Regions from separate parts of the Homo sapiens genome. Here region 2 is linked to region 1. The links come from fine-mapping of genetic effects on gene expression. Tissue or cell type: whole blood. Region 1 holds a variant in brackets; the other region holds the start of a gene. All regions are shown on one strand. Distances are between the middles of the regions.

The links. PIP is the estimated chance that this variant, and not a neighbour inherited with it, causes the effect.
Region 2: SLC35D2 starts here. The variant in region 1 is fine-mapped to the expression of SLC35D2 in whole blood (TOPMed, PIP 0.98).

The regions. Positions count from the first base shown.
Region 1 is chr9:96,320,306-96,322,986 of GRCh38, forward strand. SLC35D2 (solute carrier family 35 member D2) reads right to left here. Exons shown (of 12, transcript NM_007001.3): 11 at 1,693-1,775; 12 at 405-1,036. The coding sequence ends at 937. SLC35D2-HSD17B3 (SLC35D2-HSD17B3 readthrough) reads right to left here. Exons shown (of 26, transcript NR_182427.1): 11 at 1,693-1,775; 12 at 693-1,036. Among named protein-coding and RNA genes, the nearest start is that of HSD17B3, 19 kb to the left of the region's middle. The variant T/C (reference allele first, on the strand shown) is at 1,555.
Region 2 is chr9:96,382,438-96,385,118 of GRCh38, forward strand. It overlaps SLC35D2 (solute carrier family 35 member D2), which reads right to left and starts at 1,274. Exons shown (of 12, transcript NM_007001.3): 1 at 1,040-1,274. The coding sequence starts at 1,197. SLC35D2-HSD17B3 (SLC35D2-HSD17B3 readthrough) reads right to left here and starts at 1,274. Exons shown (of 26, transcript NR_182427.1): 1 at 1,040-1,274. RefSeq lists silencers at 873-922, 933-1,262.

The DNA.
Region 1 (2,681 bases):
GAGTTCAAGACTAGCCTGGCCAACATGAGGCCAAACCTTGTCTCTACTAAAAATACAAAAATTAGCAGGGCGTGGTGGCAGATGCCTGTAATCCCAGCTACTCGGGAGGCTGAAGCAAGAGAATCACTTGAACCCGGGTGGCAGAGGCTGCAGTGAGCCGAGATTGCACCACTGCACTCCAACATGGGGAATAGAGTGAGACTCTGTCTCAAAAAAAAAAAAAAAATAGCTAACAGGATAAAGCCTGAGTATTTTTTTTTTCCCATTGAGTTACTTTGTAGCTTTCCCCAACCTCGAGTCATAAAGGAGTCTGGAATTGTCCCTTCAAGGTGACACATTCTGTTACATTGTGAATGATGGGCACCGTTTTCTGCCTCCAATAATATCACATGATGAGGCATACATAGAAATGATTTTTTATTTACTTTGATGATTAGGGAAAGATACCAACATAGCTTTCATCAAAGCTAACAAATAACTTTACTGGCAGTTAACTAATTTTATTAGACTAAAGACATGTCTGTTTAAACTGAAACAACTGGCCCTTTGCTTTGGCTGGGACCTTGGGAATCACGGCCAAGGTGCTGATCAGAAAAGAGTCACCATTACATCAACCTCCTCCCCAGCACACAGCACAGAGATGCCACGAAGGCCCCATAGGTCCCTAGAAGAGCAGCTGGGGCTCCACCTACCGAGTCCCAGTGGCTTATTTTGAAAAGATTTGCTTTCCACAGGTAAGGTGTCGCCCGAGTACATTTCTTGAGACTGCCATTGGCTCATCCTGCATATGAGGTAGTTCTCTTTGCATTTTGCAGATGCTCTCACTTGCCCAGGGGGTGGATGTCACGAATCCGAAACCTCTGGCTTCACATTCCTACTGGGAATGCCCCCCCAGCCCGCAGTCACAAGTCAGTCTCCAATCCTGCTGCAGACTCTTTAGCTCTTCAAATCCAAACAGATGTTTTCTTCACCCACAGGTTTAGGTTTTAACTGGCTGCTCAGTGTTAAAAAGGAATATCTCAAGCCCCCTGCCATGCTGAAAGGAGAAAAAAAAGTGAAAATAAATGACTGGGAATTTCACAGGGGCTCCAGCAGCAGTTGCTGGCGTTTTTATCAATACACCTGCTTCATGCGGAGGGAATTATTCCAATATCTGTGTTTCTCCTCAAGTTTGTGGATTGCTTGATGAGAATTTCCCCTTATTTACAAGCCTTTGGAGGCAGAAAAAGAGTCATCAAATCTAATGCAGAACCTCAGAGAGAAAATAAGCACTTGGTTTCTACTGAATAAACTACATACCCTTAGCCTTAAATAGTATCCCACTGCTGAGACCCCAAATGCCTTTCAAAGCTGGCTTAGTCCACACCCCCTGCATGCCGAGCCTAGTGGGCACAAAGGTTAACACCCTCCACTTTATAGGAGGAGGGCAGAGAACGCAGGGGCCTGCTGTGAGGAAGACAGGTGAGTTAAATTCCGATCCCAGCCCCGCAAACTGCCATCACACGTGTCCCCATGGATCTGCATGAGGATGAACCCAGTGATGAAGTAAAATTA[T/C]CTTAGAAATTAGAATGTCAAAACGCCTCCTGGCTTAACGTGAAAGACTTCTCCAGGCTCTTTTGCTTATTACATATTAATCAGAGTGTTTAAGGTTCTTGTCTTCCCAAAGCGAGTCCATTAAAAATTCCCACTCACCAAATATTTAACCCTACAAAGTTTAACAAAGAGAAAATGTAGTCTCCACCGATTAATATCCCAATGTAGGCAACGGATACATTCTGCAGAAAAAGAGAGAGGATTCGTCATTTTAAAAGTAAACTGTTTAGGGGAAAATATAAATAGTAAAACCTGAAACTAGACATTTTAGTTACTTTGCATAGAGACTTGTACATAGGGATATTCACAGGTGGTTGAACAAAATAAAAACCATTACAGGCCAGGAATGATGGCTCACGCCTGTAATCCCAATACTTTAGGAGGCCAAAGTCAAAGGATCACTTGAGCCCAGGAGTTTAAGACCAGCCTGGGCAACATAGTGAGATCCCATCTCTACAAAAAATTTTTTAAAAGTAGCCGGGCATGGTGGCACATGCCTGTAATCCCAGCTACTCCACACGGACTGAAGTGGGAGGATTGCTTGAGCCCAGGAAGTCAAGGCTGCAGTGAGCTACATGCCACTGTACTCCAGCCTGGGCAACAGAGCAAGACCCTGCCTCAGAAAAATAAATAAATAAGCCATTACATATGGGGCTTACTAAATAAATGCAGTAAATTATGGTATGATAACAACAGAAAATTGCATTATTCTCTCTCTTGATCCAGTTGGCATGCAGGCAAAAGAGGAAGAGTGGGGCTGTCATCAGCTTGCCAGGTTCCTATCTCTTTACTATCATTGGGTAGTGAGGTTTTCTGGGGTTTTTTTTTTTTTTTTTTTGAGACAGAGTCTCACTCTGTTGCCCAGGCTGGAGTGCAGTGGCACAATCTCAGCTCACTGCAACCTTTGCCTCCCAGGTTCAAGAGATTCTCCAGTCCAGCCTCCCAAGTAGCTGGGACTACAGGGCACTCACCACCACGCCTGGCTCATTTTTGTACTTTTAGTAGAGATGGTGTTTCGCCATACTGGCCAGGCTGGTCTCTAATTCCTGACCTCAGGTGATCCGCCTGCCTTGGCCTCTCGAAGTGCT
Region 2 (2,681 bases), 62 kb after region 1:
AGTGAAACCTTGTCTCAAAAAAATATTATACACACACACACACACACACACACACACACTATATATATATATATATATATGCCTGCCTTGGCCTCCCAAATGCTGTGATTACAGGTGCAAACCACCTCAGCCAGCCTCAGCTTTCGTATTTTATATTCGAGAAAAGTGAGACCCACATAAGCTGAATCTGTATGTATATATAAAAAAAGAAAGCTGATACTCTAAGATACTCTCTAACTAAGACACTCTAGGTCTCTTTGGGCTCTAAAATGTTGATGGCATATTCTTGTAACATAGTAGAGTTTACAAAGAGCCTTCACATATAACAGCTCGTGCAGAGCCCTGGAGGGTAATTAACACGATTGTAATCATTCAGGTTTTTTGCATCTGAAAAAAATTGCTGACTGTGAGACTGGTCCAAAAAGACAGGTGTTAACCGGTGGAGCTGGGTCTAAATCCACAATTTTCTCAGTGCCGCTACAATGGTAGCAGAATTAAGCAGGATTTTCTAGTCCTTACAAATAGGTTCAAGGCAGCACAAATTTGCGTTTACTTCACACTAATCCAAAAAAGTACTCCATATGAACTTCCAATTGTTTTCCCGAGTTTTCCATGAACACGCTGGTCATCTGAGAATGAACAGTCAATCAATACAGACTTACTGGCTCAGGAGTACCTGACCGTTGAACATGGAGATCTGTGTAAGGAATTGCGTCCTTTGAAGCAGGCATTTGAATCCCTGTTTTCAGCTCGCTGGGTGTATGAAAGAATCTGTCTGAGCTCTACCAGCCCACCTAGGACAGGGCGCCTCGCAGCAGGGCAGGCGCGCTCAGGAAGAGAACGACTTTCTCAGGTTGTGGCCTGAGTGTAGAAAGCTGAGCGAGTTCTGGAGGGCGCCTGGGAAACTCGACCAATGTGCCCAGCTGAGACTCGAGGGTCCCTGTCCCCACCCGCCCTGTCCCGGGCGCCGCTGAAGCGCACGGAGGACAGGGGCAGCCCCGCACTCCCGCAGACCCCCCGGCCCCGGGCCCCGCCTCACCCGTAGGTGGTCAGCAGCGCCTTGTTGACAAGCACGATGAGGAAGGAGCAGGTCCCGTAGAAGAGCGCCGACAGCAGCCGGGCCACCCGCGAGGGCAGCCGCGCCGCGCCGGGCTCCCCGCCAGCGCCCTCGGCCTCGGCCTGGCCGCCGGCCGTCATCTCCTGCGGCCCCGCGGACCCCGCCGCCCGCCAGCCCCGGCTGCGCACTGGTCCCGCCCGGCCGGGCCGGGGAAGAGGGCGCGGCAGGAACAGGAAGAGCCCGGCGCAATCCCAGGTCCCGACCCGCCCCCTGCGAGCGCCCGAGGCCGGCGCGGGAGGACCCTGCGCGCTGGACTTCACCCTGGTTCCAGGCACCTCCTTCGGTCTCCAGGGCCGGCAATGCGCTGGGGAGTTGAAAAGCGCTGCCTTCCTCCAGGCTTTCCTGGAAAGAAACGCTTCAGTAAGTCTCAGGGCTTGTTTTGCTTTTTTTTTTTTTTCCCTACAACTTTTTTGTTTAGTGTATAATTTACATACAATGAAGTGTACACATCTTGCCAGTCCATAGTTTGAGATGAGCTTCGACAAAGGCATCCACAGGAGTAACTACTCAAAACAACATTTCCATCGCCCCAAAAATTCCCCTTGCTGCCCCTTTGAAGTTAACGCCCGCATCTCATCGATGACTATTGCTGTAGGTTAGGTTTGCCTTTTCCGGAATTTCAAATAAACAGGGTGCTTTCTAGAATTTATGAATGAGCATGTGGTCTCAGGGGTTTTCACTCTATGCTTTGGACTCGACCATGTGGTTTGTTTAATCGTTGAATAGTATCACAAATTGTGTATCCATTGGTTGTTTCCAGTTTAGGACCATTAGGAAAAATGCTTCCATGAAAATTCGTGGGCGTTTGTGGGACCTGTGTCTTCATTTCTCTTAAATAAATATCTAGGAGTGGAGTGGCTAGGAGTAAGGTGGGTGAAGCCTTGGGACTTGGGTGTCCTCTGGGTGCTTTGTGGTAGGTGCATTCCTCGCGGAGGGCCGTTTGCCTTCGGGTCAGGTCAGTTGAAGGACAGCTTCCCAGAACCGCCTACCCTTGTCAGTCTTTAAAAAATATGAACTTTTGGCCAGGCGCGGTGGCTCACACATGTAATCCCAGCACTTTGGGAGACCGAGGCGGGCAGATCACGAGGTCAGGAGATCGAGACCATCCTGGCTAACACGGTGAAACCCCGTCTCTACTAAAGATACAAAAAAAATTAGCCGGGCGTGGTGGCGGGCGCCTGTAGTCCCAGCTACTCAGGAGGCTGAGGCAGGAGAATGGCGTGAACCCGGGAGGCAGAGCTTGCAGTGAGGCGAGATCGCGCCACTGCACTCCAGCCTGGGCGACAGAGCAAGCCTCCGTCTCAAAAATATATATATTATATATTTAATATATAATGTATATTATATATATATATATATATGAACTTTTAGCTTCTTAGAAAAGCTTAAGATTTCAAGTTAAATAAAAGTTGGGGCCTAACTATATAGATGCCCAGAGAATTGTTTTTCTACCCTTAGGCACTAAACAACCAGGAGAATGAAAACTGGGAAACATTTTCAGCCCTGATAAGAACTAAAGCAGAACTCGTGAAAATTAGCTAGCATTAAAAAGACCAGAAGTGCC